2 linked regions of the Homo sapiens genome follow. The protein of the gene in region 1 purifies or fractionates together with the protein of each later gene. This does not show direct contact. Each region holds a gene or a part of one and is shown on either strand. Other genes may lie near its edges. The genes, in order: PON1 and NDUFB6.

Region 1 (4,611 bases):
CATACTTCCTCATTTAATCTTTTTAGCCACCTTTGAGAAAAAGATGAATATTTACCCTGTTTTGTAGGTAAGGAAATGGAGGCACTGAGAGGCTGAGTAAATTGCATGTGGTTGCTTATTTAAGAGGGTAGAGTTGGGATTTGAAATCAAGTGTCATGATACTAAGGACTCTTCCCTGTATTTCTTTCATACCTCTTTTTATTTGCTCACACTTTTCCCTTCACCTAGAATGCTCTTTAGCCCATTACCCACTGGAAAGACCCCTACTCATGATGCTTTGTAGCTTCTCCAGTCTTCTGCATTGGGATTAATAACTCCTTAGTTTACCCTCAGGAACCTTCACATATACATCTGTCAACTTTCTTACCATAGTTGTCATAGTTGTCAGTTTCACAGCTGTCAGTTTTTGTTCTTTTGCTCCCAGTAGACTTTAAAATTGGTGAGTGAATACTGCAACCTATTCATTCCTATAACCTCCAGCAGAAACACAACGTTTGCAAAGAGAAGGTACTCTGCAGATGTCCACTGAAGTGTTTTGTGGAGATACTAGGCAAGTACATCAGACTGAGAAGATGGTGTTGGTTGCATTCATAGGGGAGACTGGAGGGTTGGAGGATTATTTGTCCTTATCTCAGACTTTCAATGAAGTATGATTATAATACATATTCAAGTATCACTCTATATTTTTGAGATCACATATGACAGCTATAAAAGCTAACGTTTACAGGACATCTGCTATATGCCTGATTTTTATATATATATATATACTTAGTTTTATTTATATGTTTTATATAAATATAAATATATGTATGTGTGTGTGTGTGTGTGTGTATATATATATATATATGCTGTAATATGTATTATTATCCCCTAATTTTCGGGTGGAGAAACTGGCTGGAACTTTTCTGGAATAAAGTGGTAAAATAACTTGAAAGTTGCAGAAATGATATCTAACCCAGGTCATCAGGAATCCACAACTACTCTCTTCCCACAACTGTGTGTTGCCTACAGTAAGCATGGAATGGCAGAAATGCATCGAGAGGCCCAACGTTAGCTTTGTGGTTTCCTTCTGAGAAGGGAAACTCAGTGGACTCACGTATTGCAATTAGCAATGTAGGGACAAGGAAGTTGCCATACAGATGCTGCAACATTCCATAGCCCAAGTTGGGGTAGGGGAGGGGAGCTGTTTCTACCATCATCCAAGGCATTCCCTGGACTTGTGCGGCACATACAGCCGACTACAAAGGTGGGAGACTCGTGGGTGGGAGACTCGTGGTCTAGGGGAACTCTCTCAGTTCTTTTCTCTGTACTGCTCCCACCTGGGAAACTCAGAAATCTCTTGAGGCATCCCTTGTGTGCTTCCTTAAGTTCCCTCCAGCCCAGGCATATATAGCTTCCTGTGAGCCGCACACACATACACTCCAAGTCTGAAGAAAAAAGGATGCATCTATCCTGGGGATTTGGCTTGCTCCTGATGCAGGCCTCATGATATCATCTCTTGCCTTCTCTCCCTGGGGCAGATTCATGATCTCTAATCCCCCAGGGAGTTTGTTCCATGACGCTGGTTCTGATTCAATAGTGTGGGGTAGGGCTTGAGATTCTGCCTGTACAGGGAGCCCCTAGGTGATGCTCAGGCATCTGGTCCCCAGACCCAGTTGAGTAGCTAGGTTTTAGGGGTTTCCAACAGTGGGTAAAATTTCCCTTCCTTCCTCTGTCTGGGTCACTCCAGGAGGCTCAGCAACCCATCCTTTATCTATATATTTTTATCTATACCTATAATCTCCTTTGGCAGCCACCAGCACTGTGATTAATAAAAACTCACAAACTGTAATTTTTACATGATTTAAAAGCCAAGAATACCAACTGCTTCTTACTTTTTTTCTGCACTCTGTAACTTAAAAAAATTAGAAAAACATCCACAATAAATAGTAAAAACCCATTCTGAATGTAAGCTTCTAATTAGTCCATAAGCTCATATAATTTTTTTATATTTAATTTTTATTAGGTTTTACTTTAAAGTAAATAAGGCATTGTTGACTAAGCCTTAGAGACTAGGATGATCTGTAGACTTTGAACTCCTGTTAAAAGTTATGAAACTTTTGATACATTCTTAAAATATCCCCACCCCCCTTGTATAGCACTTAACCCTTTATTAAATACTTTAAAGGGAAGCAGGGAACTAACATTTATTGAATAGCTACTCTGTCGCAGGCAGTGTGTATTACTATTTCCAGTTTACTGAAGCAGCTAAGGTTAGAGATGTAAAGTGATTTGCCCAAATCGCATACTCATGGGGCAGAGCTAAACCCCAGGACATCAGATGCTGGCTCCAGGGTTCCCTCTTCCCCGCCTGCCCCCACTGAAGCGAACCATCACAGCACACGTTAGCTCCACCTGCTCGGGTCCACACGCAGTTTTGCTGTGGCCCTCAGTAGCCTCAATTTGAGAATCTTCAAGCCTGGAAGGTTTGCCATGGCCAGGCAGTCAAGGCGCAGAAGCGACAGGGGCTCCTTTCTCTAATACACAAAATATCAGGAGAACCCCCAGCCAGGTTAGTTTGTTTCTTTCCAGGTTGAGAAGTGAATCTGTAGCCAGGGCACACAAATCTTCATGAAAAATTAATTCGTGTATGCTGACAACCTGGGCACTCACACCCCTGGCAATTGCCTCCTTATCCCATGTCTCAGGCCATGAGCAAGAGTTTGTTTTCAAGTGACACATGACGGCTGGACAAACATTTATGAAACCCCCGCAGAGTGTGCATCTAGCACCTGCTTGTAAATGTTCTGTTAACAGCCTGGACCCAACTTTCTGGGGGCTCGTGGAGCTGGCAGGGAGTGAGGAGGACGAAGGCTGCAGCCCTCACCACAACCCAACTTACTGGTAAGAAGACTGGTGGTTCCTGAAGAGTGCCAGTCCCATCCCCAAGAGGGTGAGCGCAATCAGCTTCGCCATGGTCGGGGATAGACAAAGGGATCGATGGGCGCAGACACCGACGGGCTAGGAGGCTCTGCCTGCCTGCAGCCGCAGCCCTGCTGGGGCAGCGCCGATTGGCCCGCCCCGCCCCTCCCCGCCGGGTCGGCAGCTAGCTGGGCCGACCAGGTGCACAGAAGGCGTGGCTTGCGGTCAGCCCCCACCGCAGGAGCTCAGCACTTTCAGCCAAAAGTCCCATTTTGCTCCTTCCAACTGTAAAGAGAGAAGACAGAGAATAGGTGCCTAGTCCAGTCGGGGAGGGGAAATCAAACAAGCTGAAGTAAATTGCCATGGGAAAGGACAGTCAAGCTTTGGTGAGCACTCACTTTGTGCCATCCCGGTCCTTGCGTCTCAGAGAGATTCAGTAGCTTGATCATGGTGACAGCCAAAAAGGTGCGGAAGGGAGGGCTGTAGTAGGAACCCCTAAGATCTAACTGTTCTCACCAGGCTACTACTCTGTGTCACCTTCCAACATCTGGATTTCAAGCATTTTTCTCTCAACACCACTCTGACTTTAGAGTTCACTCAAGTACATCCCCCACACAGCTCATTCATTTCCTCATGCAGCTGGCATTTATTGAGTACCTACTATGTGCCAGGCGCTGTTCTAGATGCTACAGAACAGGACAAAACGTCTTCCTCAAGCTTACGTTCATTCCAATGGGGGGAGTCAATTGAGAAATCAGCAAAACATGTCACTGTGGCATATATAATGCTCTAGGTGATGCATGTGTGTGTTATGGATATGCACATATGTTATGGAGAAAACACATAAAGCAAGAAAGGGGATAAGGAATACCCTCTGCTGAAGAATAGCAGTCAGAGAAGTTCTCACTGATAATGGGGCATTTGAGTAAAGACCCAAAGGAGGTGCCTCTGTACAACCATGTCTCTCTTCTCTGCTGTCTGCTGTTACTGTGAATGATTTGCTCCATGTCTCTTTCCTTCTCAAGGCTTTTGGTCCCAGTTATACCTTCTCTCTTCTGCAATATCTGTCCTTTCATCTCTTGTGGAATATTGCCAGCCAATACCAACATGCTTTACTTATCACCTTTAGCTTTCTGGGGGGAAGCTTCTTTGGCCTCACATTGTAACTACTGCCCTCTCTCTCTGCTCCTTCTGAACACTTGCTCTTAAGCCTTGAGCTACTATGTAAAAAACCTGACCACTCCACTGGAGCATTCACATGAAAGGCCATGAACATATGGAGAGGGAAAGTGGTCAGCTGAAGCCAACCTCTTAACCATCGGCACCAAGGAAGCAGAAATGAATGAAGTGGGCTATTAGACAAGCCCAGCCACCACAGCCTGGCCACCAACTGAATACCACTGGCTAAGCCACCCTGGTTAACACCAGGTGGAGCAGAAGAATCTACCTAAGAAGTAGAACCAATGAATCCAAAAGAGAAGAGTATTCGAAAAGAGGGGGAATGATGATCTGTGTCCAATGTGGCTATGAGTTGAGTATGCTTATGGCAGAGAAGTAACTACTGAATTAGATAACATGGATACAATAGGTGGTTTAATAAGAACAAATTCTACACGAGTCAAAAGAACACAAACCATATTAGAATGGGTTAAGGTGAGAATGGAAGATTGGAGATATTTCACAAGGTTAGCTGCTAAACCAAACAATCAT
Region 2 (3,817 bases), on another chromosome or scaffold:
CAGGTTCCAGGTCCAGAAGAGGAGCCTGCTCTCCCTGTTACTGTAGGGGTTGATGGAGTATCTTGACAAGCAGCCGTCCATGTCGAAGGGACCCTGGCAGGAGAACTAGCCTTCCGGTGTGCAGAGACGGCTGCCACCCTTGGCTCCTCTGTTGTATAGCTGCCGTCGTACTGCACAGACTGGAGCTTCTGGCACATGGAGCGGAGGACCCGCAGGAATTCCTCCTGAGCCTCTGCACCCACCATGGAGGAGCAGGAGCTCACCTCTCTCAGGTAACTCCGGATCCGGCTTTCACAGCTGTATCTCAGATAGCCAGACTTATTCCAAAATCGGGACTCCAAGCCTTCAAACCACAGCGGGTCCTCAGCCCGGGTGTCGGCTGCGACGTTCTGGCTGACGTTGTACAGGAGGTCGGCCAGCAGTCTCTGCCTCTGTGGGGGCCTGCTCATCACACAGTAGCTGCCGGGCGGCCTGGATGAGCCACGCGTGCGGCTGGCGAAAAGCACTGAGGAAGCACCCGATGTCACTCACATAGCCCTGCCAGGCCTGGCGTGAGGTGAGCAGCACCAGCTCGGCATCGTCGAGGACGCTTCGGTCAGCTCCATGCCATCCTCGTACGAGGGAGCTAGAAGCAGAGGTAGCCCTTGCGCAGCATCTCCCGGCAGCTCCTGCCCGCCATGCCAAACTTCCTCGGGCTGCACAGGGCCCGCAGCTTCACAGTCTTGTGCTTCTGGAGCACTGCAGATGTACTCAACGCCTCTGGGCCCCGCAGGCAGTGGCACCCGCTGGCCAGCTGCTCAAGCTGGTCCAGGCCCCAGTCACAGGGCTCTACACCAGGTGTGCTCTGCAAAACTGGCATGGGCCGGGAACCGATCCCAGAAACTCAGTGCCATTTTGCTAACAGCATGTGTTCACTTCACGTCTCTGTGCCATATTTTGGTAATTCTCCCAATATTTCAAACTTTTTCAGATGGAGTCTCGCTCTGTCACCCAGGCAGTGGTGCGATCTTGGCTCACTGCAACCTCCTTCTCCCAGGTTCAAGGGATTCTCCTGCCTCAGCCTCCCCAGTAGCTGGGACTACAGACGTGCACCAAGCCCGGCTAATTTTTGTATTTTAGTAGAGATGGGGTTTCACCATGTTGGCCAGGCTGATCTTGAACTCCTCACCTCAGCTGATTTGCCCACCTCAGCCTCCCAAAGTGCTGGGATTACAGGTGTGAGCCACCATGCCTGGCCTCAAACTTTGTCACTATTGTTATATTAATATTTGTTATGGTAATCTGCACTCAGTGATTTTTGATGTTACTACTACAAATTTTAGGGGCAACACAAATCACACCCATATAAGATAGTGAATTTAATAAGTAAATGTTGTGTGTTGTGACTGTTCCACCAACTGGCCATTCCCCACCTCTCTCCCTCTCCTTGGACTGTCCTATTCCCTGAGACACAACAATACTGAAATTAGGCCAATTTAATAACACTACAATGACCTCTAACTGTTCAAATAAAAGAAAGAGCTGCATGTTTCTCACTTCATATCAAAAGCTACTTGGTAGGCTGAGGCAGGAGAATTGCTTGAACCTGGGAGGCGGAGGTTGCAGTGAGTCGAGATGGCACCACCGCACTCCAGCCTGAGTGACACAGCAAGACCTTGTCTCAAAAAGAAAAAAAAAAGATAGTGATTCCTCTGATGGATCTAGGCAAAGAAAATGGAAAATCTTCTGGGAAAGAATTTACTATCCTATATGCCATTAAGAAGATTTGTGATTAACAGGAGGAGGTCAAAGTATCAACATGAACAAGAGTTTGGAAGAAGTTGATTTCAACTCTCGTGGATGACTTTGAGGGGTTCAGGAATTCGGTGCAGGAAGGAACTCGATGTAGTGGATATAGCAAAAGAACTAGAATTAGAAGTGGAGCCTGACCATGTGACTGAAGTGCCTCCATCACATGATAAAGCTTGATAGATGAGAAGGTGCTCCTTTTGGATGAGCAAACAAAGTGGTTTCTTGAGATGGAATCTGCTCCTGGTGAAGATGCTATGAACATTGTTGAAATGACAACAAAGAATTTCGAATATTACATAATCTTAGTTGATAAAGCAGCGGCATGGTTTGAAAGGCCTGACTCCAATTTTGAAAGTTATACTGTGGGTAAAATGCTATGCTATCAAACAGCATCTCATGCTACAGAGATATCTTTCGTGAAAATAAAAGTCAATCGATGTGGCAAACCTCAGTGTTGTCTCATATACATATATATATATGTATATATGTACATATACTTATATATGTATATACGTATGTATATATATGTGTATGTATATGTGTGTGTGTGTGCATATATATATATATATATTTTTTTTTTTTTTTTTTTTGAGATGGAGTCTTGCTCTGTTGCCCAGGATGGAGTGCAGTGGTGCAATCTCAGCTCACTGCAACCTCCGCCTCCCGGGTTCAAGCGATTCTCCTGCCTCAGCCTCCCGAGTAGCTGGGATTACAGGCACCCACTACTACTCCCAGCTAATTTTTGTATTTTTAGTAGAGACAGGGTCTCACCATCTTGGCCAGGGTGGTCTTGAACTCCTGACCTCGTGATCCACCTGCCTTGGCCTCCCAAAGTGGTAGGATTACAGGCGTGGGACACCGCGCCCCGCCTGCTATCTTATATTAAGAAATTGCCACAGCCACTCCAGCCTGCAACAACCATCACCCTGATCAGTCAGCAGTTATCAACATGGAAGCAAGACCTTCCATTAGCAAAAAGATCATACATAGTCACTAAGGCTCAAATGATCATTAGCATTTTTTAGCAATGAAGTTTTTGTTTTTTTCTTTTTCTTTTTTGAGACGGAGTCTCACTCTGTCGCCAGGCTGGAGTGCAGTGGCACGATCTCAGCTCACTGCAACCTCCACCTCCCAGGTTCAAGTGATTCTTCTGCCTCAACCTCCCGAATAGCTGGGACTACAGGCGCCCGCCACCATGCCCAGCTCATTTTTTTTATTTTTAGTAGAGGTGGGGTTTCACCATGTTGGCCAGGATGGTCTCGATCTCTTGACCTCGTGATCCACCCGCCTCAACCTCCCAAAGTGCTGGGATTACAGGCATGAGCCACCGTGCCCGGCCTGTTTTTTCTTTTTAAGGCAGCATATCAACCTGGCACCTAGGCCAGAGTGCAGTGGCACAATCACAGTTTATTGCAGCCTCGAAATCCTGGGCTCAAGCAATCCTCCCATCTCAGCCTCTTGAGTAGCTGGGATTATAGGTGTGGACCACTACATCCAGCTATTTTTTTTTCTTTTTTTTTGGAAACATGGAGTCTCACTATGTTGCCCAAGCCGGTCGAACTTCTGGCCTCAAGCAATCTTCCTACCTTGGCCTCTCAAAGTGCTAGGGCTACAGGTGGGAGCCACCACACATGGCCCAGCAATAAAGTATTTTTAAATTAAAGCATATACATCGTTCTTTTACACTGCTATTACACACTTATACCACAGCACAGTGTAAACATAACTTTTATATGCACTAGGAAGCCAAAAAATTTGTGTAACTCGTTTTGGTGGTCTAGAACCAAAGAATACTTTTGGAACTGCATTGTTCTACAACCAATTCTGAAATATCTCTGAGGTATGCCTGTATTTGGCCAATCTCCCTATATATAACCCATCTCCTGTCACCACAACCACATCCCAGCATTAATACCTGCCTCACCTCATTCAGGTTCTGACATCTTGCTCTGAGTTACCACTTGCCTCACTGCCTCATACCATCCTTCTTCCAGATGTCCTCCTCCCTCTGCTCAGGTACCAATAT

What was found.
Region 2: the proteins of PON1 (region 1) and NDUFB6 purify together in Homo sapiens (affinity purification with mass spectrometry; one large-scale study listed by BioGRID and IntAct). This does not show direct contact.

The regions. Positions count from the first base shown.
Region 1 is NC_000007.14:95,321,521-95,326,131, forward strand, and holds the start of PON1 (serum paraoxonase/arylesterase 1), read right to left. Parts: upstream 3,013-4,611; 5' UTR 2,956-3,012; coding exon 2,882-2,955; intron 1-2,881. UniProt on the Homo sapiens protein: Hydrolyzes the toxic metabolites of a variety of organophosphorus insecticides. Capable of hydrolyzing a broad spectrum of organophosphate substrates and lactones, and a number of aromatic carboxylic acid esters.
Region 2 is NC_000009.12:32,566,388-32,570,204, forward strand, and holds part of NDUFB6 (NADH dehydrogenase [ubiquinone] 1 beta subcomplex subunit 6), read right to left. Parts: intron 474-3,817; exon of another isoform or gene 4-473; intron 1-3.